4 linked regions of the Homo sapiens genome follow. The protein of the gene in region 3 interacts with the protein of the main gene of each other region in a pairwise test. Each region holds a gene or a part of one and is shown on either strand. Other genes may lie near its edges.

Region 1 (6,778 bases), on a different chromosome or scaffold from region 3:
GCAGCTGTGCAGCTTCATTGAGACAACGACCAAATTGCATTGGAGTAATGTTGGCAGTCAAGAGGAAGTGCCAATTTAGTGATTTCCTTAGCAGAACTGGCTGCATCTTTTACAAGAAAGCACATCTTCTTTGTCATCCTGAGGCTAGAGTGTGGAACAATTTGGCAGCTGTAGTATTTTATGTCATACAAAGTGTACAGATATCAGGCCACATACAGCACCTCTCACCCATCCATACTACCCACCTCACCAACTACAGGGCAGAGTCAGGCATTAAACTGAAAATAAATGTTATCTATTATATTGTAGTTTTTAAAAAAGTGAGTTTTTTAAAGTTTCTGCTATAAAACAAATCACAACTCACATGCCATTTCTGATAAAAGACAAGCACAGTTTTAAAATGTGCCCATGGCATCTGGGTTTGTGGACTAGAAGGCTAATCAGCCTCAATCATTGCACCAATGTTCTCCCAGGAATTTCCAAGACAGATTAAACTTTGCCAAGGACCATAGGTTTTGGACCTCTATTCATTTGTTTTATTTGCTTAATTTTATTACATGAAACTTTTTGTACAACACATTTGAGAACCCTGGGTTTAGAACAACTTAGACCCTAAGTTTTCGGTCTCAGTTTCCTTTTCCTTTGATAGATCTTTATTCACTGTATGAACAGAGTCACCAAAAAAAAAAAAAAAAATCAGTATTTTGTTTTGGTTTGGTGGGCTTTAGCTAAATAGCTCGAAGTGTTTCAGTGGTAATTGTCCTAAGTCTTTTGAATTATTCCTTTTGAAAGAGAGCAGATATTAGGGGGGAAAAATCAGTGTCTACCCTGAAAGCTTGTGGCACCAAATGACAGTGTGATTTACTGGAAGGTAGTCTAAAGGGGTGGGATGGGAAGGGACAGGAGAAGAAAAAAAAAAGAGAGATAGGGAGAGAAGGGGATGAAAGAGAGAGAGAGGTTGGGAGGAGACAGAGAGAGATTGATTTAACTTCTTAATGCTCTCTGTTAGTCTACCCACTTTGTTCCCATTGCTATCACCAAGTTCAGACAAGGAGAGTTAAGCTCAACTCAAAAAGAGCAGCCGTCTGCCTGGTTTCCCTCTGCCTCTAATTGTGCCTCCCTTGGTTCCATTCTTCACATGGCCACTAGAACGATGATCTCCATTGCAAAGGGCTAGTGAGGTCTATTCCCTGCCTCAATTCGTCATTGTTCACCACATCTGTGCTACCGCCACTTGGCTGAGAAGCATCCAAGGACCAAAGGATCCAAGCATACTTGATGAGTATCATTGACAAATTCAAGGATCCTAGAGGTGAGGGGTGGGGGTGGTGACCTTTGATTGCCCTGGAGTCTGTAGACTCAGCTCCCTGTGGGAAACCCGGCTCCCAGTAGACACCTTGACTCTCCACATTTCTCTCTGAAGGGACCTGGTGTCCTGCGAATAGTTGGACAGGGTGAGAACTTGGCCTCCAAGGAAGAAAGTTGGAGAGGAAATGCCCCTTGCTTTTGTTTCTTCCTGGCTCATCTCAAGGTCTTTAAGCAGATATGTGTTCTGCATCATCATTTACAACTGAAATTTTCCAGTTTATCTCATTTATAACTAAAAGGAAAGTAAGGTTCCCGCTGCAAGGTGTTAGCTAAATGCTCTGCCAGGAATATTTAGAACAACCAAATTATTGTCTGTCAATGGATCATCGTGGTTTTCCTAACTGTGTTCACTACATTAAAACATGTACTGCTTGAAACGTCCCACAAGAGAGTGGTCTTTTCCAAGGATGGCTGGTTCCCTCCCTCCACCCCTCCCACCCCTCACATCACGGAACACTTCTGCTCCGCTGTCTGCTTGATTTCAGTGAAGGTGGCCTGGGCTTTTTCTTTTATGGTATCCAAGTCCATGTTCTGGAGATTCTGTATCTGCCCAAGAATAGAATCTTTATCTTCTTCCTCTTCTTGATCTTCATCTACCATTTTCCGGAGATCTTCAGGTAAATCCACATCATCTCCAGCCATCTGGATTTGATTCTCATCCATTTCACTCTATGTGAAAAATAAATAGAGATAGATAAATAACTCTAAACTACTAACTCACTAACTAAATAAATTTTAAAAGCAGCAGGAAAAGGTCTTTAGAGAATACAGGAAGTGAGTGGCACTCTTGGCCTTGCAGCAGAGCCTGGTCCTGATGGCAGTTGTGGGGGCTTCTGTAGGGGGGTCCTTTCTTCATGGCACCTTGCGTCGATCAGAACCTTCCAGCATGGTGGTTCTCCAAGTGTGGTCTCTGGACAAGCAGCATTAGCATCATCTAGAGCCTGCTGGAACTACAAATTCTTGGGCCCCATCCCAGACCCACTGAATCAGGAACTCTGGAGATGGAGCCCAGCCATCTGGAATTTTTTTTTTTTTTTTGAGAGGGAGTCTTGCTCTGTTGCCCAGGCTGAAGTGCAGTATCTCGATCTCAGCTCACTGCAACCTCTGCCTCCTTGGTTCAAGCAATTCTCCTGCCTCAGTAAATCTCAGTAGCTGGGATTACAGGTGTGCACCACCACACTCAGCTGATTTTTTTGTATTTTTAGTAGAGACGGGGTTTCACCATGTTGGCCAGGCTGGTCTCGAACTCCTGACCTCAGGCGATCCAACCACCCCGGCCTCCCAAAGTGCTGAAATTACAGGTGTGAGCCACCACTCCCAACCCCATCTGGATTTTTAAGAATGTCTTTCTCTCTGTGATGCTGATACACACAAAAGCTGGGGCATCACACCCCAACTCTGCCTAAGGGCAGCTTTGCAAGTCTTGCAGATTCTATCAGCCCCATGCCAAGACCCACTCACCTGGTTGACCCCACTGTAGAGGATGAGGTCTCAGTTTATAGTAACTAGACAGTATGCATTAATTCACTCATCACACCTTAGTGGCAACTTTTTCTTAATCATGGCTCTTTTCCTCCCTTCCACTAGACAGGGAGCCCGTCATGGGCTCTTGTCAGATTCAACTTTCCACCGTTAGCACCTGGACTGGAGTCTAGCACACAGTACACATGTATTAAGTGAACCATCAAGGGCATGGCCGCCACTCAGCATACTGGCAGTCTAGCCTTCGGTGTTGCTGACGCTGTCACAAGCGCCTTGCACATTTCATTTTGTGATTTTAGGAGTGTCTGTTCTAGAATTTCTTAATGCATGCTGCCTGGTCTTTGAGATTCCTTTATTTTTTTTTTTTTTTAGACAGGGTCTCTCTCTTTCACCGAGGCTGGAGTGCAGTGGTGCAATCTGGGCTCATTGCAGCCTTGGCCTCCTGGGCTCAAGCAATCCTTCCACCTCAGCCTTCCAAGTAGCTGGGACTACAGGTATGCACCCCCATACTCAGCTGAGATTCTTTTACCACTTAGGCTATAGAGTCTCTTGTTCTGTAATGAGAGAGGAGTCTAAAGAAAAATATTCTCTGGGAAAGGTTAACAGTAGCTTACATCCCCAGATGGCTGCTGTCAGATTTTTTGGAGATCAGGTTGTAACATGAGGTGACCTGGGTTTCAGGGAAACAGAAGATTAAAAAGAGTGTCAGAAAAGCTAATGAGAGGAAAGATCTATGTTAGAGCCACCTGAATATGTTGTGACCAGCCTTAAATTTGTTACCAAAGCTCATGAAAAATCATATTAAAAAATGACGATCTTAGTCAAACAGACTACATTGCTTTAAGAAAGATTTCTGCACCTGGTGACTTCTGAGGTGGAGTTAAAGACAGCACCTAAAGAGAGATCTGAATTCTCCCTGTCTGGGTGCTATGTAGGAATGATCAGAAAGAAACATCAGTTGTCTCTAGGTCCAAACAGCACACCAGGTAACCTGGAAACTTCATTCTTCATCTGGAAAGTGGGTTGGAAGGACGAGATGGCTGAAGTCTTTTCCAGTTCTAACACTCTGTGGCTCCCATCCTTGGAGGGGCTGAAGCCCAGCTGCCTTTCCTCAGGGCTCTCTTCTTTGATTCGGTTCCCTGGGCAGAGTGACACAGGAGTCTGGCTCAAGAAATAGCTTGAGAAGCAGATTTCTGATGCAGCAGGAACCACTGATTTTGGGAAGGACAGTCTTCACCCAGGCCCTCCTTGGAGAGCCTGGAGGACAGTCCCACTCCGCGCCAGCCTCCGGAGATAAGTGAAGCCTCTCCCTGCTCTTGGCCAGGGCCTTGGGCCCTCCAAGTGCTTAACGGATTAATTAGTTCCTGGTCAAACTGTTGTGGGATTAATTAGTTAGTTAATCCTTAGGGGCTCCCAGCCAATTGTGCATTTCTATTTATTTTTTATTTGCCTTCCCTAGCGGCTGCTTTCCTTGCTGATCGTCTTCTGGGACTTTTTGCAGGAAGGAGAGGAAAAGCACAAGGTGGACGACTCATTCTCAGTTCATGCCAATGTGGGACATCTGCCCTCTCTTATGCATCCTGAAATCAAATGCAAGTAATCTGAAAAGACATTCCCGGGAATTCTGGCCCCTTCCCTCAGGTTGGTAGTAAGATCCCCAAGCATGTCACCAGGTTTGAACCTGGACAGGGTAACTGCTGTGGGCTTGCAGGGATGGGCAGCTAGAGGGGCTAGAGGAAAGCGTGTCAGCCAGCCAGGAGTATAAAACACCGAACACACTCATGAGGGCTCACGGGATGGTGCTCGCCTGCCTCCCATTCACAGGGAGACTTCAGCGAGGCCACCATCTATGGCTCTGCAGCGCTTGAAGAAGCTTTGGGATGGTTTCCTCCTTCAAGGGTGACTCTGAGGTTCGTTTTATCCTTGTGCTTCTTGCTCAGGGAAGGGAGAGCAGTGCAATTCTACGTTGCCTTATGGAGAGGATCTTGATTGCCCTAACTTTTATCAAAGTGGTTCTCAAAGTAGTTCTCAAAGTGGGTTCTCCAGGACAACAGCATCAACATCTTTTGGGACTTTGCTAGAGATGCACGTGCTGGGACCCTACTCAGACCCACTGAATCAGAAACTCAGGGCTCGGGCCTCGCAATCTGTGATTTAACAAGTCTTCCAGGTGATTCTGGGGCTTGCTGAAGTTTGAGAACCCCTGCTCTACATTTCTTGAAGACAAGGGCTGTAACTTACTCATCTTTCTGTCTCATAACCCAGCAAGGTTTCTGGCATGTAGACACAGACAATTATATGTTTACTGAATAGCCGGGCATGGTGGCTCAAGCCAGTAACCCCAGCTCTTTGGGAAGCTGAGGCGGGGGGATCACCTGAGGTCAGGGGTTCAAGACCAGCATGGCCAATTTGGTGAAACCCCGTCTCTACTAAAAATGCAAAAAATTAGCAGGGAGTGGTGGCACACACCTGTAATCCCAGCTACTAGGGAGGCTGAGGCAGGAGAATCACTTGAACCTGGGAGGCAGAGGTTGCCATAAGCCAAGATCACGCCACTGAACTCCAGCCCGGGCAAAAGAGAGAGACTCTGTCTTAACAAATAAATAAATATTTTTAAAAATTAAAATAAATGTTTACTGAATGATTCAATGAACCTATTGTCAGAGAGGATAACAGCCTTAGTAATACTCAAATTTGTAGGTCCTCTTTGCTGTAAAGAGCTCTGTTTTCGTAGCTATCGGTTTATCTTTATAATTCCATTGGGGCATCGCAGCCTAAATTGCCTGAGTGAGCACATTAGTTCTACCACTTATAGGATGGGTGACCTGGGGCACTTCGTATAGATGGCCTCTTTGAGCTTTATTTCCTTGTCTGTATATGGAGAATTGCATTATTTGCCTTAGAGCTGTGGAAGGTTAATTAGATGGTAACTGAATTATTTAGAATCTGTTAAGCACTCACCCAGTAGTAGCTATTCATAAAAATAATAACCTTCAGAGGTGGGCAGGGGAATTTGCTGTGGGCAGTCTTGCACATGGGGTTAGCTCTGTCAGGAGGCTGTGATGTCCTGGCACCTTACCTCTGACCTAGCAATGACTCCTACCTTCACCCAAAGGCTTGGTTTTTCTAACAAGCCAGGCTTAGTCATTTCCTCTTTAGCACTAGGCTCTCTATTCTAGGAGAAAGCTACCTAGCCAGCCCTAGCTCCCCTTACCTCTTGTCAGGCCCGCCCCTGACTTTTGTGGGTGGCAGAACATAAGTGCTGATAGAAGTTCCTGGCTCACAACCTGGCCCTCTTTTTTTTCCAGTTCCTGGTGCCAGCCCTCACTGGGAAGGGCCTTAGGACCTTGGGTGCATGGCCCCTACCCCACTCCTCAGGCCTAGTCTGCCTGGCCACTCTCAGGAGCACAGATCTGCATCGGAGGCCTGAGAATGCTCTGGAATGCACTTAGGCAGGGCGTTTGGGGTCCTAAGCAGCTTGAGCATAGTCTACAAGAGGGGTGTGGGCTCTGCCTGGGCTAGGCCCTTTGGCCCACAGACTCTTCACCCCGTGTGAAAGAGTGTGGCTAGAAGAGAGACCAAGAGAGCCCTCTAAAACATGGGCCCCAGGGCAGTGGCCTCAGATGTCCAGGTCCAAAGGCAGCAATGGGTGTACTCGATGGCTGTGGTCAGAGAGTCCTGCACTCACCATTGATCTAGAAGTACAAGGCTACTGGCCCTCCACCAGAGCATGGCTGCTTCTGGAGATGATTCTAGTCTTGAAGCCAATTACTCTGGGCTGCAGCCTGTGCCATGGACATCTTATGACTAAAGGTAGGACAACCAGACAAGGCCGTTGAGTGGCTAGAGGAGAAAATGATGCCCTCTGGAACCAAATGTGGGCCTGTAGCCTCATTAGCTCTGGATCCTAACTAATTGAGCTAGCCCT
Region 2 (7,030 bases), on a different chromosome or scaffold from region 3:
TATTATGTATTATTGGTGTATGTATCTGCTTTTATGCCAATATCATGCTGTTTTGGTTACTACAGCTTTGTAGTTTTGAAATCTTTAAATTTTTGAAATTTTGAAATTTTCTAGTTTTGAAATTTTGAAATCTTGTAGTGTGATACCTCCAGCTTTGTTCTTTTTTGCTTGGGATTGCTTTGACCATTCAGGCTATTTTTAGTTCCATATGAATTTTAAGATTGTTTCCTCTAATTCTGTGAAGAATTACATTGATATTTTGATAGAGCCAGGTTTGAATCTGTAGATTTCTTTGGGTAGTATAATCATTTTAGCAATATTAATTCATCTGATGAGTAAGGAATGTCTTTCCATTTGTTTGTATCCTCTTCAGTTTATTTCCTCAGTGTTTTGTAGTTTTTCTTATTAAGGCTTGTCACCTCCTTGGTTAAATTTATTCCTAGGTATACTTCATTCTCTTATAGCTATTGTAAATGTGATTGCCTTCCTGATTTATTTTCAGCTAATTCATTGTGTGTAGAAATGCTACTGATTTTTGTATATTGATTTTGCATCCTGCAAATTTACTAAATTCATTTATCAGTTCTGAGAGTTTTATTGTTAGAGTCTTTAGGTTTTTGTTTTGTTTTGTTTTGTTTTGTTTTGTTTTTGAGATGGAATTTCACCATGTTGGCCAAGCTGGTCTTGATCTCCTGGCCTCAAGCAATCTGCCCACTTTGGCCTCCTAAAGTGCTGGAATTACAGGCATGAGCCACCACGCCTGGCCAAGTCTTTAGGTTTTTGTATGTTATTTGCAGAGACAATTTGACTTCCGCCTTTCCAGTTTGGATGGTTTTTATTTCTTTCTCTTGCCTAATTGCTCTGGCTAGGACTTTCAGTACTATGTAAAATAAGAGTCATAACAGTGGACATCCAGTTCCTAGAGGAAAAGATTTCAGCTTTTCTCCATTCAGTATGATGTTAGCCATGGGTTTGTCATATATGGCCTTTTTTGTGTTGAGGTACTTTCCTTCTATACCTAATTTATTGAGAGTTTCTATCATGAAACAATATTGAATTTTAACACATGCTTTTTATTCTGCAACTATTTAGGTGATCATACGGTTTATGTCCTTCATTCTGTTGACATATGTATAACATTTATTGATTTGCATATGTTGAATCATTCTTGCCTTTCTGGGATTAATCCCACTTTATCATGGTATGTTATCTTTTTGATGTATTGTTGGATTTGATTTGCTACTATTTTGTTGAATATTTTTGCATCTATGTTCATCAGGGATATTGGCCTCTAGTTTTCTTTTTTTATTGTCTCCTTTCTGATTTTGGTGTCATGGTTATGCTGGCCTTGTAGAATGAGTTAGGAAGAGTTGCCTCCACTTCAATTTTTTGGAATAGTTTGAGAAGAGTTGGCATAATTTTTTTTTCTTTAAAGGTTCAGTAAAGTTCAGCACTGAAGCCATCCAGCCCTGGAATTTTCTTTGTTGGGGGGCCTTTTATTATTCATTCAATCTCATTACTTGTTGTTTGTCTGCTGAAGTTTTCTATACCTTCTTGATTCAATCTCGGTAGATTATATGTGTCCAGGAACTTATCCATTTCTTCTAGACTTTCAAATTTGTTGGCATATTGTTCATAGTAGTGTCTAAGATCCTGTGTATTTCTGTGGTAACCATTGTGACATCTTCTTTTTTATTTATGATTTTATTAATTTTTATGTCTTCTGTCTCTTTCTTAGTTTAGCTAATGATTGTCAATTTTATTTATTTTTCCAAAAAGCGAACTTGTTCATTGATTTTTTTTTAATTTCATTTATTTCTGCTCTGATCTTTATGATTTCTTTCATTGTGCTGATTTTGGATTTGGTTTGTTCTTGCTTTCTAGTTTCTTGAAATGCACAGTTAAATGGTTTACTTGAAATTTGTCTAATTGTTTGATGTAGGCATTTATTTCTCTCAAGTTGTCTCTTAAAACTGTTTTTGCTGTGTCCCATAGGTTTTGGTATATTTTATTTCTATTTTTATTTATTTTGAGAAATTTTTAAATATCATTCTTAATTTCTTCCTTCACTATTGGTCATTTAGAATCATTTTGTTTCATTTCTGTGTATTTGTATAGTTTGCATGTTTCCCTTGGTATTGATTTTTAGTTTTATTCAATTGTAGTCAAATAAGATACTTGATACATTTTGGTTTTTAAAAATTTTTGGCACTTGTTTTGTGTTCTAACATATGGTCGATCCTTGGGAATGTTGCACATGCTGATGAAACCATGTGTATTCTGCAGCTGTCGGTTGAAATGTTCTGTAAATATCTTAGGTTCATTTGGTATATGGTGCAGTTTAAATCCAACGTTTATTTGTTAATCTTGTCTAGATGATTTGTTCAATGCTGAGAGTGGGGCGTTGAAGTCCTCAACTATTATTGTATTGGAGTCTATCTCTCCCTTTATATCTAATAATATTTGCTTTACATATCTGGGTGCTCTGGTGTTGTGTGCATATGTATTTACAGTTGTTATATTATAGTGCTGAACTGACCCCTTTATAATAATATAATGTCCTTCTTTGTCTCTTTACAGCTTTTGACTTGTAGTCCGTTTTGTCTGAGATAAGTATAGCTATTCCTGCTTCCTTTCATTTCCACTTGGGTAGAATATCTTTTTCCATCTCTTCCTTTTCAGTCTATGTGTGTCTTCTAGGTGAGATAAGTTTCTTGTAAGCAGTATATAGCTGTGTTGGTAGAAGGGCTGAGGCAGGGCTTGCTTGTCTGACATAATGTAAAAGAGTCTTGGAACATGTCCTGGGTCCAGGGTCTCAAACCCCTCGTGGCCTATGGAACACCAAGCTCTGTGCCTAAGGGTGGAAGGCTGCCCTGCCACACTGCAATCTAAGCCCAGGGCATAAAACCCCTCGTGGCTTGGAAAGAATCCAGGGCTCTGGGCATAAAACCCCTCATAGCCTCTGGAATGTGTCCAGACTTGCTGGCCCCTTGCTCCTTGCTCTCCCAGGATCATAAATTGATTGTATCTTGAGTGAAAAGAACTTGTTCTCCATTATTTCAAGTAGCAGAGCATATGCTAAACCGTCACAGCTATGCTTGATGCACCGCTACCTTTCTACCCCAAAGTCCTCACGTTCTCACTTGTCTATCCCCACTTCTGCACGTCCTCACCACCTGCTTCTTTGTTTGATTACCAATAAATAGTGTGGGCTCCCAGAGCTCGGGGCCTTCACAGCCTCCATACTAGCGTCGGCCCCCTGGACTCACTTTATGTACTATTAACTTGTCTTGTCTCATTCCTTTGACTCCGCTGGACTTCGTGGCCCCCACGGCCTAGTGTTGGATCTGATCACCCCAACAAGCTGAGTCTAGATTTTCTTTTCATTCATTCAGGCAGTCCATATATTTTAAATGGGACAATTTAATCCATTTACATACACATTATTATTAATAGGTTATTTTCATTTCATTGATTGTTTTCTGATTGTTTTATATATTCCTGGTTCCTTACTTCCCCTCTTATTGTTTCTTTTTGTGGTTGGCTGATGTTTTTTTTTTTTTTGTAGTGATAAGATTTGATTCCTTTCTCTTTCTTCTTTGTGTATGGGCTGTCAGTGAGTTTTAAGTTCACGTGTTTTTGCCTTTTCACTTCCAGATGTAAGACTCCCTTGAGCATTTCTTTTCTTTTTCTTCTCTTATTTATTTTTATTATTTTTTTTTTGAGAAAGTGTCTCACTCTGTCGCCCAGGCAGGAGTGCAGTGGCATGATCACGGCTCACTATAGTCTCGACCTCCTGGGCTTAAGCAATCTTCCTGCCTTAACCTCCCAAGTAGCTGGGACTACAGGCATGTGCCACCACGCCCAGCTAATTTTTGTGTTTCTTGTAGAGGTAGGGTGTTGCCATTTGCCTAAGCTGGTCTCAAATTAAAGAGCTCAAGTGGTCCACCTGCCTGCCTTCACCTCCCAATGTGCTGGGATTATAGGCATGAGCCACACTGTGCCTGGCCCCTTGAGCATTTCTTGTAAGGCCAGTCTAAGAGTGATTAGAATTCCCTTAGTTTTTGCTTATCTATGAAATATTTTATTTCTCCTTCTTTTCTGAAAGATAGCTTTTCTGGGTATAGTATTTTTGACTGTTAAGTTTTTTATCTTTCAGTACTTTGAGTATGTCATCCCATTCTATCCTGGCCTATATAATGTTACTGCTGAGAAACTCACTGTTAGTCTAATAAGGATAATCCTATATGTGACTAGATACTTTTACCTTGCTGTTTTTACAATTCTTTACTTGACTTTTGACAATTTGGCATAATGAGCTTTGGAGAGGACTTGCTTGGGTTGAATATTTTGAGAGTACTTTGAGCTTCCTGGACCTGGATGTCCTTCTAGTTCCCAAGGCTTGGGAAGTTTTCACCTATTACTGGATTAAATATGTTTTCTACACCTTTTCCATTCTCTTCTCCTCCTGGAAATACCATAATGTGAATATTTGCTTGATTGTGTCCCATGAGTCCTGTAGGTTTCCTTCGTTCTATTTTATTCTCTTATTTTTACCTGCCTGTGTTATTTCAGAAGATCTGTCTTCAAGTTCAGAAATTATTTTTTCTTCTTGACCTAGCCTGTTGTTGAAGCTCTCGATTGCGGTTTTTTATTTCATTTATTGAGTTCTCAGCTGTAGGAGTTCTGCTTTGTTCTTTTATATAATATCTATCTCTCTGTTAAATTTCTCTTTCAAGTCATGAATTAAAACAATGGGACACAGGTGCCCAACTACTTGGCTGACCTGGGGGCATATCTGCTGGAGGTGCCAACATGGCTGTTTTGCAGGGCTGAGATGAAGCTGAATGACTCTTGGCTGGCCTAGGTGTGTTTTTGCCAGGAGTAGCACTCAGAGCTTTATCTAGGGTTTGGGATGTGAGTGTAAGACTGCTCAGCTGGCCTAGGGGGTGTACCAGCCAGTGGTAGCCCATGGGGCTGTTTCTCAGGCCTGGAATGCAAGCACATTCTGCCTGGGGTCATGTCTAAAAGGGTTGGCTCACAAGGCTGTTTCTCAGGCCCTAATTGTGGGAGAGTGGCCTTTGGGCAGGCCAGAGTCATGTCCACAGAAGGCGTCTGGGCACCGTAAGGCTGTTTCTCAGAGCCTGTGTGTGAGCACATAACCACTACCCCAGCCTGGGGATGTATCAACTCTTTGTTGGCTCAGAGGTCTCTCCCATTCAGGTGAGCATGCACAGTAGTTTGGCCAACTCAATTGTGTGTTCGCCCTGAGTGGGACTATAAGACCTTTCCTCCAGCTGGAAGTACGGGCAGCAGGGGTTGGTTTCTCTGCTGTTCAGGGCCAGAGTCCCAGCCAATCCTGGGCCCAGGCTCCATGCAGCTCTAATTGTGGTATTCAGCCACTACTGCAGGTTTAGTGGAATGAAGATGCACAATGATAAAGAGGTGCATGCCACTGGCCCCCAGAGGAGGGTGCACTCCAGAGATGGCTGTGGTCTCAAGATGGTTCTGTGTTGTAGCAGCTTGCCCGCAGGGGCTGGTTAGGGAGTTGGGAGTGCACACCAAATGCTCCATGCAGCTGTGTGAATTCCTGGCAGCTCTTCCAACTGTGCTCAGAGCTTGTGAGGACTGTAAGATTAACCTGTAGTAAGGAATGTAGGTATCTGCAGTGGCACTGGAGGTTGGTTGGATTCCTCTGCTTATCATTTCCCTACAAGGGGAAATCCTTCCTGTCTCTGGGACAAACCAATCTGGGCTGGGGAGATGGAGCTGCAAAGCCCGGGTGCCTCCATGCTGCCCTCCTGGGTTTCCAATTACCACAGGTAACTCTCCACTCCCTTGCTGCACTACACTACTCTCCCTTCGACACTCCACTCAAATCTTTGCTGTGGTTTATTCATTGCCTTGGTCCTTTCTTGTCTGGTGACACGGGGGAGGATGAGCTCCAGGCACCTCCGGTGAGCCATTTTGCTCCAATGGGGGCATTTTTTTTTAATAGGTTTTATTTTTCAGAGTAGTTTTTGTTTCACAGCAAAATTGAGTGGAATCTTCTAGTCGCTGATCATCTTGGGAGCATTTATAAATGAACCTTATTTTTCATGAAGAAATTGAGCAGAAGATACTAAGACTTCCCGTATGCCCTCTACCCTTACACATAGTTTCCCCGGCCATCAGCATCCCCCATCAGAGTGGTACATTTGTTACAGTCAATAAAACTACATTGACATATCATTGTCACCTGAAGCCCATAGTTTACATTAAAGTTCACTCTTGGTGTTGTACATTTTACAGGCTTTTTAAAAATGTATAATGACATGAATCCACCATGAGAGTATCATATAGAATAGTCACACTTCCCTAAAAATCTCTTTAGGGCATTTTTTTCTACTGTCCATACCTCAACCCTTAGCCCTGGCCTCTGTCCAAAGACCAGTGCTCTCTCCACTGCCCTATTCCAATTAATAATGGCATCTGGCACCTCAGTGGACAGTGAGCCCAGTGAGAGCAGGAACAGTTCCCTCAGTAGTGGTTATCAAACTGTTAACAATGATGCTCAGAGACACGCCCCTGACTCTGAGTGTTGGGACCTAGAAGGCACAGCCAGGCAGGTCCAGGAGAACTGTCTGGGTCTAAGAAGGTCTGAGAACCACCTCCCTGCCCCACCCTGCTTCCAGGCCCTTTTTAAGGCCAAAAGGACCACCTTTGACCCTAAGTGATGGGGCCAGTGGGAAGAAAGAAGAGACAAGGCCTATCAGCATTCCAGTGCTTTCTCTCTCTCTCATCCAAGAGGCTCAGAGCTTCACAGTCCTTCAGGGGCTATGTCTGAGGTTCATTTCAGAAAGACCCAGGGTGGAGAGGAACCTGAGTCCTAGGAGAGATGATGTTTTGTGCACCAGAGAGAGAGGGTGGGACAAGAGGTGTCAGGTGCACTGTGTACTTCATCTCATGGTCGTGGTCAATATTGATGTCTATGATGGGTGGGAAGATCTAGGAGCTAAACCCCATTTTGGAGGTGAAGTCACCCCTCTCT
Region 3 (7,030 bases):
AGAGCGAGACACAGTGAGAGCGAGACACAGAGCGAGACAGTGAGAGCGAGACAGAGCGAGACAGTGAGAGCGAGACAGAGCGAGAGACAGTGAGAGAGCGAGAGACAGTGAGAGAGAGACAGTGAGAGCGAGAGAGAGAGAGAGCAAGAGACAGTGAGAGCGTGAGAGACAGTGAGAGAGTGAGAGACAGAGAGAGAGGACAGTGAGAGAGAAACAGGAGGGGGACAGAGAGACAGAGGAGGGGGAGGGGGGACAGAGAGAGAGACAGAGGAGAGGGAGGGGGGACAGAGAGAGAGGAGGGGGAGGAGGTGACAGAGAGACAGAGGAGGGGAAGGGGGGACAGATGGGGAGGGCGGGAGCGGGGAAGCGTGTGGGAGCGGGGAACTGCCACATGCATTTAAACCATCTGATGTCATGAGAACTCGTTCATGAGACAGCACTGGGGGATGGTGCTAAACCATTAGAAACTGCCCCCATGACCTGATCACGTCCCTCCCTGCCCCTCAACATGTGGAGATTACAATTTGACATGAGATTTGGGTAAGGACACAGCCAAACCATGTCATTCAGCCCCTGGGCCCTCCGAAACCTCATGTCCTTCTCACATTTCAAAACCAATCATGCCTTCCCAACAGTCCCCCCGAAGTCTTAACTCATTCCAGCATTAACTCAAAAGTCCAAGTCCAAAGTCTCATCTGAGACAAGGCAAGTCCCTTCCACCTATGAGCCTGTAAAATCAAAAACAAGTTAGTTACTTCCAAGATACAATGGGGGTTACAGGCATTGGGTAAACAGACCCATTCCAAAAGGGAGAAATCAGCCAAAATGAAGGGGCTACAGGCCCCATGCAAGTCTAAAACCCAGCAGGGCAGTCATTAAGTCTTAAAGCTCCAAAATAACCTCCTTTGGCTCTATGTTTCACATCTAGGCCACACTAATGCAAGGAGTGGGCTCCTAAGGCCTTGAGCAACTCCACATGGCCCTGTGGTTCTGCAGGGTACAGCCCCCACAGCTGCTTTCACAGGCTGGCGCTGAGTGTCTGTGGCTTTTCCAGGCATACAATGCAATCCATAACGGCTCCCCCTTGCAGCAGACTTCTGGACATCCAAGCATTTCCATACATCCTCTGAAATCTAGGCGGAGGCTCCCAAACTCTTGCCTTCTGTGCACCCACAGACCCAACAGCACGTGGAAGCCACCAAGGTTTGGGGCTTGGACCCTCTTAAGCAACAGCTCAAGCTATATCTTGGCCCCTTTTAGCCACAGCTGGAGCTGGAGCAGCTGTGACACAGGGCACTGGAGTCCAGGACCTGATCCACAAAACCATTTTTCCTTGACAGGCCTCAGGGCCTGTAGTGTGGGGGCTGCTGTGAAGCTCTCTGAAATTCCCTGGGGACATTTTCCCCATTGTCTTACCTATTAACATTCAGCTCCTCAACTGCATCTCATTATTGGGCCACCAGAAATAGCAGCCTGACCCTCAGTTTGGTCTAGGAACAATACCTCCAGGCACTTTGTTCTTCCTTTTATAAAAGGCTCAATCCCATTTTATACTCATCCCTTACCCTCCCTACCCACGAGTTCCTCAGGCCACTGAAGACAGTGATTGTCTTCTCCTGGGATGGGGAAAGAGCAAGGCAACACATTGAGCAGGTATTAAATGCCCAAAGGGTGCTACTTCCTACCATTGTTTACCTGGACTGAGTGATTCAGACCCTTGAGCCACATCCTACAATTTTGCCTCCAAAGTTCTGCATTTCTCAAGCAAACTTAAGGGTCCCAATACCATAAATAAAAGTTTGATTCTCAGAAATGACTTTGCTTCTCTTCTTCCAAATCACAACTTCTCACCATGAAAGCTGTGTAAGTGGCCCAGTCAGAAGCCTAAGGGGCCAGGAAAAAGCATAACGAGAGGATGCAAAATGTGGGAGAAGGTTTATTTTGAGCCCAGCTGAATAAAGAAACCTCAGGCCCTGTGTCCAGGGATTTAATATGGGTCCCTCAGAGCAGCATGGCTCTGACTGTACAGGAGCTTCCCCTTGCACTGTCACTAGAGACAACCGGAGGTATAGCAGCCACACAGGTGGAAAGCAAGGAGACATTCTGTCTCACTGGCTAACTCTAGGACGCCGCGAATTATGACCCATAGGTACTACTGCTCTGAGACTTCCCAAAGCAACACCAGACTTTGAACAGTGCCGAGAGCACGGGATGTGCAAGAGAAAGCATTTATGAGAATTTGGGCACACCCACCCTTTACAACTTTTACACTCGATTCTCTCCCAAACACATGACCTCCACTGCTACATGTGGACCTGTATTTTAAAAGTTACAACTTTTAAGCCTTAGTTTTCATATTTGTACAATGTCTACCATGTGAAGTCGTAATAAGGATTAGAAGAGAATACATAGAAAGCCCCTACAAGAGAGTATCTGACATTCAGTAGAGGGTCAGTAAATGGCAGCTAATATGGTATTTGCACTATTTATACCATGTCTAAGGGGGAATCTTACCAATGAGAGATCAGGCTCCTCAGAGCTGAGAGAGCTGAGCTGGCTTCACACCCTGGCCCCAATTTCTATGGCAGCTCCAATTTCAAATGCATTCCACCATTCTCACAGGGACACTGAGGTTTATCCACCCATATGTCCCTTCAGCAACTCAGAAAATATGGTCACTATACCCATACATAGCCTATGAGCCAACTATAAGAAAAAAGTGACTCAATTCAGTAAGCAAAGGATATTACCAAAGACCAGCAAAAATCACATCCAGAGAAAACTCAGTAGACCATCAGCTTCTGAGAGACCAGACCTCAGTTTAAGTTTTTTTTAATACAATATTTTATTTACTACTGGCCTCTGCTACATACAACTTAGCAGAAAGAAAAAGAGAAAAATGATTTTAATTGCATGAGAGCTTGAAGCACCATTTCCTGTTTTGATATCTAGCATATCCAGGTTTCTAAACAGTCCCTGCCTTCTACTGTGAGCTCAGAATGTCCCAAGAATGTAGGTTACTTTTTGATAACGCTAAATTCTCACTTTGCTTAAAACTTAATATACATGAAATCAAGAACTTGGTAAGTCATTGTCCCTAGGGCTAAAAAGGCTACAAAAATGAGGAAACTGGCACCTACCATTAAAGAAGAGCTTATTCTATAGTTAGGAGGCAAGACCTACACAAGTCCCTCACAGCACAAGGAGTAAGTGCCAGGGCACATCTTTGACAGCCAGGCTCACAGAAGGAAAGTGAGAAGAGACTGGATTACAGGGAAGGTTCTAAAGTAGGGAATCAGACTGAGCAGAATTCAGATATTTAGAGAAGAGAGGACACAGCAGAAAGGAGAACGACATTTATGAAGAGCAAAGAGGCAGCTAAAAGAAGGGGTCCATGGAGAGGTATTAGCCTGGACTGGGCTTACACACAGCAAGAGTAAGGCCAGTGCATCTCAACCCTTCCTATGCACCAGCATCCCCTGAGGACCTTCCAGAAATACCAGTGCCTAGGCCCCACACCCAGAGATTACAGTCCACTGATCTAGGGGTGGAAGAGAGAAAACTTAGAGTACTAAAGAAAAAGTGATGGCATTTATTTTTCTTAATTACTTTTCTAGCACACACAAAAAAAGGCAAAGTTGTTTTGGCAGGCTGAATGAGAGGAGAGGAGAGAACTGTTTCACCTTTGGGTGACTAACCCTCCTTTGAGAGAAATAGCTGTGCTTGATCACCTAGAAGCTCTATCTAGAGGAAATAAACTAAAGCCTGCACTCCTCAGAGAATAGCATTGGTAGCTCTAAGACAGAGGAAGGGGCTGCTGGCACAGACCCAGCTATCTTAATCATAGCTTTATTCTTTTTCTCTTCTTTGCATTTTTAAAAATTATTTTATTACCATCCCTACTGATCCTTGTTCTTAAATAAGCGACAACAAAAATGGCATGAAGTAGCAACTCTAATCTTACATGATTATTTGCAGAGGCCAAATGCTCCAAGTTTGAATTGCTTGACTAACACTAATCATAAAAAGCCCTTGCTTTTCACCGTCTTTGTTTTCTTCTTTTTTTTTTTATTGGGGGGATGGGGATAAAGGAAGATACTTTTGTCTTTGGAACCAAAGATCTGAGCCTCAGAGCCCACTACACTTGCCCCCTCCACAGAGGGCCTCCCTCTCACTATGGTATCTACTGAGGAATTCAGTGTATGTACCTTCTCCCCAAATCATTGACTTTATATATCACATCCAAGAAGGAATAAAGGAGCAAGAACTGTCACCACCCTTCTTAGAGGATGAGTCACTTATTTTGTGATCAGTGACCACCCACAGAGTGGGCTGATTTAGAAACTCGTTTGCACTACATGGCACCAAGTGGAGAGTGTTCCTTCTTTTCCCATTTGCCCTAGCTATGGGATGCTGCTTTGCTTTCTCGAGAAAACCATTCTCTCCCTCTCCTCCTAGTTTCACCAGTCTAGATGGACTGAAACTGACTTCAGATGATACCACAGCCAGCTAATAAGTTGAGATCAAGACTGACTCGCAAGCCCTGAGAATAATTTAGTGCTCTTCTAACACAAGACAGTGGGAAAGACTGTCCAAACTGTGTACTAAAGCTTGTACTAAAGAAAACTTTTAAAGGTAGTTGTGGGCAGAAGAGGGGAGGACATTTTCAGGTTTTAGTTTACCCTAGGGGGCAGGATGGGAGGGAAAAGCAGAGGAAGGCGATTCATTGAACCATGTTTCCCAAAGTATATTCTGCAGAAACGTATCTAGTGAATGCTCTAGGGAGCTGGAGTTAAGAATTGAGTAAGGCGTTGTGCTAGGGCTAAAAAGGCCACACCACCTAAACAGTTTATAAAGTGCTACTCATCCACCCTCACCAACTATAGTCACAATGAAAATTGGCATATTAAAGCTTCCAAAGTCCCACAACAAAGAAAAATGTTTCACAAACTTGGTTATGGAATCACCATAACATTTCAGCTGCTTTAAAACTAAGCTGTCTGAAATGGTTGGGTATCCCTTATCCAAAATGCTTGGGACCAGAAGCGTTTCTGATTTCAGATATTTTTTCGGGCTTTGGAATATTTACATATACATAGTGAGATCTTGGGGTGGGACACAAGTCTAAGCACAAAATTTGTTTCATATACACCTTACACACATAGCCTGGAAGACAATTTTATATTTTTAAAATTTTTGTGCATGAAATGAAGTTTGTGTTAAGTACTTTTGTGTGGAAATTCCCACTTGTAGCATCAAGTCAGTGCTCAGGAAGTTTTGGATTTTGGAGCATTTCGGATTTTGGATTTGGGACATCGCCTGTACTAGCCATACGTGGTAACTGAGCATCTGAAACATGGCTAGCGTGAATTCAGATGGGCTGTTAATGTAAAATACATACTGGATTTCAAAGACTTCATACAAAAAAATTGTAAAAGTATCTCAGTTTGTTTTCTGTTTGAGATAGAGTCTTGTTCTGTCACCCAGGCTGGAGTTCAGTGGTGCGAGCCTGCAGCTGGGACCACAGGTGGGTGCCACCATGCCCAGCTAATTTTTTGTGTGTGTGTGACAGGATCTCATTTTGTTGCTCAGGCTGGTTTCAAAATCCTGGGCTCAAGTGATTCTCCCACCTCAGCCTCCCAAAGTGCTGGGATTACAGGCCTGAGCCACCATGCCTAGTTTAAAATTTTTTTTTAAATATTGATTATATGTTGAAATGATAGTATTAATATTTTGGAAATAAGGGGTTAAATAAAATTATTAATATTTCACTTGTTTCTTTATACTTTTTCATATGGCTACTAAGAAATGTAAATTACATATATGGCTGCTCACATCATATTTCTACTGGACAGCACTCTTTTAGAAAATGCTAAGCCATAACACAGGCTTGGAAACTTCAGATATTTCTTATCATCTTGGTATCTGTGCCATATTTTTCACCTGAAAGAGAAGTACTATAGCACAAAACTTGGGAATGGTTCAAAAAAGATGTAAAAAGCATCTGGGCATTCAAACTAGGATTCATAAGATAGCCAACCTAACATGAAAATTCCATAGGTATCAAGGAATGAGGTCTATGTTTCTTACAAAAGATGAACACCTTTCGTTTTTTGTCTTGTCAATAATCCCTAGGACAGGCACGATGGCTCAAGCTTATAATCTCAGAACTTTGAGAGGCTGAGGTGGGAGGATCGCTTGAGGCCACTAGTTTGAGACCAGCCTGAGCAATACAGGAAGCCCCATCTCTACAACAAATTAAAAAGGGCCAGGCGTGGTGGCTCACGCCTGTAATCCCAGCACTTTGGGAGGCCGAGGCGGGCAGATCACAAGGTCAGGAGATCGAGACCATCCTGGCTAACACGGTGAAACCCCCATCTCAACTAAAAATACAAAAAAAAATTAGCCAGGTGTGGTGGTGGGTGCCTGTAGTCCCAGCTGCTTGGGAAGCTGAGGCAGGAGAATGGCATGAACCTGGGAGGCGGAGCTTGCAGTGAGCCGAGATTGCACCACTGCACTCCAGCCTGGGCAACAGAGTGAGACTCCGTCTCAAAAAAAAAAAAAAAAAAAAAAGTTAGCCAGGCTTGGTAGAAGGCGCCTATAGTCCCAGCTACTCAGGAGGCTGAAGTGGGGGAATTGCTTGAGCCCAGGAGGTCGAGACTGCAGTGAACCGTGGTCAGGCCACTGCACTCCGATATGAGTTACAAAGTGAGACACTGCCTCAAAGACAAAAAAATCCCTTAGATATTTATGGAACAATAGAGAACTGTTTCACTTTGCCTTTCTCTCCATGACTATGTCTGTAAAGCTATTCCTAAATAGGAATAACTTAGAATGAACAATTTTCATGCTAAAGATTGAACAAATTTCAGTAACTGAAATCACTATGTGCACTCAGCACCCATAAAGGCAAAAAAAGTTCCTTCAGGGATTCCCCAAGAGGGTGCTGCTCAAGGCCAACTTAGTTATATATTAATAGTCATTGTTCTATAATAGATTTCATTATCCCTCACTCACCTCACGACTTGGG
Region 4 (6,310 bases), on a different chromosome or scaffold from region 3:
TACGTTGCCCTTTCCATACCTGCTCTGTCCTTTAAGTACTAAACCTTCCATCCAGTACTATCCAAATAAAACTAAATATTAGTCACGTATGAATTACTAAGGGATCATTACTGGAATATCCAAACAATTTAAAGAGAAGGTAACAATAACTTAAATCTAAATGCACCGGGGACTGGGGCACCACTAAGGTATTGAAAAAGTAACCATAGTTGACTCTGAACATTCTGAAACCCAACTTCGAAGAGAAAAGAAACCTTTAAGTAGGCAATAAATTGGTTTCAATATCTGCGTTTTAACACAAGCTCAGACATGTACTTACTGGATTTCTTTGGGCAAATTACTTTGCTTCTATTTCTTAGTGTCTTCAACTATAAAAGTAGAAGTAATCTATTCATATACTATTTATTTCAGAGAAATGTTATGAGAATGACTTGGATGAGCTGAAAAATGAATGATCTCCTTGAACAAGGTACGATTATTAAGTTTCTATTGTGAAGTCAAATAGAACAATTCACTCAAAGGACACGATGTTTGATTGAGAACATTCTTAATTTTATTTTCTTTAATTTTATAAAATACACTTTGTAAGATAAGTTTCTAAAAGTTTATCCTTTATGTGTGTTAAAATTGCAATTCTATATCAGAAATGAAGGAAACACTTTCAGTTGATTAACTCTCTTTGTGTGTGTATATATGTGTATGTATGCATGTGAGGTTTTCAGGGAAGGGTTGGTTATTTGTTATGTTATTAAATCAAAACAAAACACAAGGTACGGATTACTTCACTGTCCTTTATCTTGATTGGTTTCTTACAAAACATTTTCCCTCTCCTCCTTCTATGCAGCCTGGAAGCTTATCTTGTATACTGGTTTGAAAACAAGTATCAAGTGTCTTTTTGTAAAGCTCTTACATCTCCTTAAATATTGCTGAAACCACTTTGGGGGAAAAGAACAACACAACTCTTTACAACAAAAGAACTGTAGTACAAATCTTTCCTTCAATTAAAACCAATCAGACTTTTTTTTTTTTTAACCCAAAGTTAACAAAAACAGGAAAAGACTGAAATCTGGGAGCTATTCAGGTCTCAAACTCTTTCTGCCTGTCCTTTTTCCTGGAAGCTTACCAACTGAATAGCTGATGACTGGTGCATTCTGTTATGTGATCTATATCAGGAGAAAATAACCTTTATGTTAAACCTAACTCTTAACACACCAAGATAACATTGCTAAGTAAAATCATTTTCCATTAGCTAGAAAGAACGATCAGATTACTCAAATTGAGATTCAAATTCACCAAATCTGTTTCTGCAAAGGCAGAATACTTGTAGAAAATCCCAATAGATTCAACTAGCCAATTTTTAATATCATTTGTGATGCTTAATGTCCAATTTTCCTAGTTTAAAAAACAGTCATAATCAAAGAATTATTCTCCAGACATTTCTGATGCAACCCCAAATAAGTAATAAACAAACTGGAATACATGAAATGTGCATCATTCTAAAACAAATCAAGACCTTCAAATCACCTACGATGACTGAATGGATAATACCCCATGAAATGAGCACCATTGTGAAGATATGACAGAGGCCAGAGTACACAACTAATTAACAGAAAAAAAGACATGCTATCCAAAGAGTTATCTATCCTGTGTCTACCAGAGGGCCATCTCAGGTTACACCATTAGCCACCAGCAACTGCTGCTCCTCAGGCCAGTCTGTTCTCATGTAAGCTAGTTTCCTTCTATTCTCAGCTCCTTGGAAACCACAGGGTTGTCATGGTAGCTGTTATCAAGGAGAAGGGAGTGAGAAGATGCTGACAACACCCTGTTTCTCTTCCCTAACGAGGTGTAAGGCCAGATGCCCCCTTCGTCTACACAGATTCTACGCTCCCTTATGCTGTAAGTAAGGTTGGCTGAGTTAGGGCTTCAGTAGTCCATCGCCATCGGGGTCAGTGCTCTCTTTCTGTGGGTGAAAGATCCTTGCTTTGACCCCCTTCTCCCAGCTGCAATAGGCAGATTTGGGCAAACGCTCTTATTGTTTTTCTGACATTCTTTTTTCTTCTATCTTCAGTGGTAATAGAGAGACCAGAATGAATTCCATTTTGTACACCAAAGAGAATATATTTGGCCCCTATAGATGGCAAGAGGACCAAAGACATTCCTTCTCTGTACCTGAGCATCTTTCCTTCCACTTTGTTTCCATCAGTGGAAGTACCCTTTGAGAAGAAATTACTTTCTGATCCTCAGGAGATGCTTGAAAATTCAATTAGAGCCTCCATTCCTTTGTGACTTGCAGTTGGGAAGTCATCTTCTTAGGCATTTCCCATTTCTAGCAGGAACCAGCTATGAAGCAAAATGACTAAAAGAGGTACATAAGAGGGGAGAGTCCAAAGAGAGACCTTAATCACTGCAAGACTCTCCTTTCTTGTTACACTCATCAAGTAAGAAGAGGGCCAGTTGGTGGCAAAGGCAAAGAGTTAAGATGGGAGACGCAGCATTGTAGGCTGTGTGGTTAGAGCCTCGCTATTAGAGAAAGGGGGATTTCTACGGGGGATCAGAACTTGGTGCCTCGGCCCATGAGTTTAAGGACGGCAAAGTTGTAAGTGGCAGCAATCATGAAGGTGAGCTGTAGGGAACAGAAGAGAGAATGTGAATGAGAGTAGAAAAGAAAGCACTCCCTCCTCAAATCCCTTTGGGAATGAGGAAGGGTAGAAATAAAATCATAACTAAATAAGGGAAAAACCCATGCTCTGCAAAAAGCAGTACATCCCAGGCTTGGCTTTCTCCATATACACTTGACTGGAAGTCCGATGTCTCTGAGGCATCATGGGTCTCATGGCCCAGGCCCAGAGAATCAAATCATAAAGATTTATTCCACACCTCTGTTTGATCTAGCACTGAGTTTTCCTCAGGGAAGTGAACAATATTTGGGCTTTGCCACATCAATATGTCCGAGTGACTTAGAGTCATAGGGTGCTTGCTGTAGACACACAGCCACATCATGCAGTAGAGCTCTCCCCTGGTTAATGAATCAATTCGTTTTACAAGGTGAGAAATTACTTGACTCTGTATGGAAACCTCAGCAGTAGGGGCCAGGAGTTCTGTGAGCTCATCTTGTCTGATCACTGCTTATAAAATAACTTCAGATAAATCACTTCACCCTTCAGTGCCTTAGGTTTTTAATCTGCACAATGAGCACACTACATTCACAGGGCACTGTAGCACTATCAGCAAGACCTGGGACATAGCATTGTATTATAATCATAACAATTCTAATAATGTTAGGAGGTCCTCCCAGTATTTCCATATGAGTAACTAAATCCACTGGAGAGTATCCAAAGTGGATTCATATTGATAGTATATAGAATTCCAGGCTATAGCAAGTCATGTTTCGTGATGTTTCAGTGTTTTGTCACTGATCTGATCAAAATGTATTGAGAATTAACCGTAATTTATGACTGCAAAGTACTTGGCAACATTACATGTTCTATAAATACTAAATATTATCATTCGTGTCTATGAATCTCTTACCTCTTTCCTCATACCACTTTTCTTGTTCCCATCTAATTTGTGATGTCTTTCTGCCTTGCCAATGCAAGTAGAAGTACGGAGCCTCCACCCTTTGCTATCTTCCCAGAAGCTTCCCTCCAGCATTTCAAGGATGGAAGCAGTCTACCTTCTTGCCTTTCAGAATAGCTGTACCCACACTATCTCAGGCCTATTTACTTGCCAAGATCATTCAAAGTCAACTCACCAGGGAAACCAGTGTAGCTGCAGCCCCCACAAATGCAGCAATAAACAGGTGGAAGGTCATTTGGAACTGCAGGAAAATGAAAGAGGAAGAACTGTTTCTTGCAACAGCAGTAATATGCTCCACTGTAAATCATGAATACAGCTTTCTGAATGTGTTGATATCTTTCTTGTGTGCTAATTCCACATCTCTAACTAAGTTTTCACTTCCCTAAATGTGGGCCTCCCAGTCTTCAGTGTACACCATAGCACCTGGCCCATTAACACCCAGATCACAGAATAGTCATGAAATAGTACAGTACTCCAAAATAATTAACTGGTTCCCTACAGTTGTGCCCAGGGGCCCAAAATTTAAAGTCAACATTTTGCTGTCAAAGAAATAATTTACTGCCTGTCTCCCCCGGATTTACTTTTATTCCCCTGCCTCATTTGTATATAATATCTGTTCTCAATACAGTGCTTTCCCTTTCAAATGTACTTATTTTACCTCTCATTTGAGATAAAGAAGTTCCAAATTGAAAATGTTTTCATAAAACCTATGAATGCCTCTGTGCACAGCCCATTTTCTTGATATGGTTTTTAACTAAAGGAATGAAAATTTTCATGTGGGGGATTTTGCCATTAGGCTCTATCTTTACCTAAAGCTACAAACTTCTCTTTTAAGAGGGGAAGGGTTGGAAAGGAAGTCTTTCTATGCAACTCTAGAGAAAACAGGTGTTTTACCTTCTATGCTCATTGGCTCAGGCACACTTAGCCAACATGTTGTAGAAGGCAATCGGCTAATTCAAAATCCAGCAAAGGGAAACTTTCAGTCCTTAAAATTGAAGGCCATGGGTGTAATTTGTATGGTATTAGCTACTCCCTTGTAAAATAACCCAAATAACCCACTCACCTCAGCTGTTTTGCAGATGGACAGAAGGTTGGAGCCACAAACCTTGCCAGGGAAAGCATTCCATGGGAGAACACCTAAGTAAGACACAAAAAGCAAGCAGGGTAAGCTTTATGGAGTTACGGGGCCACATGGAGACTTTCCCCCAGAGCCCTTCTTCCATCTCTAATTATCCTGGCTGTAAAGTTGGATTCTACCAACAATCAGGATCCTCTTTTCTACAGGTTTACAAAAAAGAGAAGGTGGTATTGAACAGTGGTGAAACCTTGTGTTTGTTATTGAAATGTGCTGCTTTGGGGTTGTGAACAGCAGTCAACTAGAGTAGGCCAATGTGAATGGCCAAGAAAACTCCCACCACTTCCAAGTTCCCTTCCCGGGGAAGAAACCTCTCTGGTTTCAGTAGGGAAGGATTAATAAACTAAGACCCAATCATTCATCATCTTATATTTTTCTCATAATCACCACCCTCCTTACACTAAGAAAATAACCAAATATATAGTGCTTCCATAGTGGGTAGGAGAGCCAAAGCACCCGTACCCTAACTCACCATACATTCTGGCATCAGCACAGAGACTGCCTATACTGGCAGAGGTCTTGCTGGGGAAGGCAATAGACTGGCAGGTGGTCCAGGTGTTGAAGTAAATGTACACAGGCACAGCAGAGCAGGCAAACACCAGGAGCCACACAACGGTCAGGGCATAGGTGATGCCCACAAACTAAAATGATTGACATGGGGTGGTTAGAAATCAGCATCAGCCTGCAGATGTAGAAACACAAACTGGGAGATCCTGGAGTGGCGTGTGCCAGACATTAAAACCAGGTTCCAGGGCTCTCCTTCAAATGAAATTAGTGAGCAGGGCACCTCTGCCAAGGGTAATTGGCAGTATCTACTAGATAACTGGCCCCAGTATAACGGAGGGTGGGGGGAATGGGTAGGGGAAGAGTGAGGAGGATCCCTGGGTTAGAGAGGCTTCAGAGGATGTTTTTGGGCAGATAAGGTGTAAAGAAATCAAAACAGATCTTGAAAGAAAGTCGTGCCATTTTGTGCCTTAGGCTGAGCTTAGAACATGTTCCTTGCCATAGGAACATTTTTGTTCCCTAGCCATTGAACAAAGCCAATAGGAGATTAAAATTTCAGATACAAAACCTTTCTAAGCTAACTGCTGGCCACAAAAAGACATTGCTGGAACCCACACATGTTCAGCCGCCAAAGGATCTTTAACTCCAGAGACTGAAAACAAATGTGCACCTCACTCAAAGCATGGATAACCCTCAGGCAATAAAACATTCAACATGCAGATCTACTCCAATTCCCTCTGGGACCTCGAACTGTGCAGGATCCCAGAACATTGTAAATTTCACCTTGGAGTTAATTATTTAATTTTTATTATCCATCCTCCCTCTCAGATCAGGTGCCCAAGTCTCAATCACATGAGCAGCATTTTAGACTCTTGTCCAGTTAGATCCACTCTTGTGGTACCTACTAGGAAGGGAACAAAGGGATACCAACAGATGGCTTAGAAATGGTCTGATTGTACAAAGCATCCCACAAAACTCATGCTTTCTGTTTTGAGAAGAAATTTGCTTAGGGAACCTTTGAAAGGTGAGGCTAAGCCAGCTGGGCACCACGTTCTTCCTGACCTTCTCGTTCGGCTGCAGCCATCGCTTCCTCAC

The links.
Region 1: the proteins of TMEM243 (region 3) and CPLX4 interact in binary tests that used the Homo sapiens proteins (3 or more experiments, as listed by UniProt).
Region 2: the proteins of TMEM243 (region 3) and CD33 interact in binary tests that used the Homo sapiens proteins (3 or more experiments, as listed by UniProt).
Region 4: the proteins of TMEM243 (region 3) and PLP1 interact in binary tests that used the Homo sapiens proteins (3 or more experiments, as listed by UniProt).

The regions. Positions count from the first base shown.
Region 1 is NC_000018.10:59,294,889-59,301,666, forward strand, and holds the end of CPLX4 (complexin-4), read right to left. Parts: intron 2,038-6,778; coding exon 1,810-2,037; 3' UTR 514-1,809; downstream 1-513.
Region 2 is NC_000019.10:51,228,054-51,235,083, forward strand, and holds part of CD33 (myeloid cell surface antigen CD33 isoform 1 precursor), read left to right. Parts: intron 1-7,030. UniProt on the Homo sapiens protein: Sialic-acid-binding immunoglobulin-like lectin (Siglec) that plays a role in mediating cell-cell interactions and in maintaining immune cells in a resting state.
Region 3 is NC_000007.14:87,209,723-87,216,752, forward strand, and holds part of TMEM243 (transmembrane protein 243), read right to left. Parts: intron 1-7,030.
Region 4 is NC_000023.11:103,786,840-103,793,149, reverse strand, and holds the end of PLP1 (myelin proteolipid protein), read right to left. Parts: intron 5,353-6,310; coding exon 5,184-5,352; intron 4,714-5,183; coding exon 4,640-4,713; intron 3,818-4,639; coding exon 3,752-3,817; intron 2,624-3,751; coding exon 2,552-2,623; 3' UTR 531-2,551; downstream 1-530.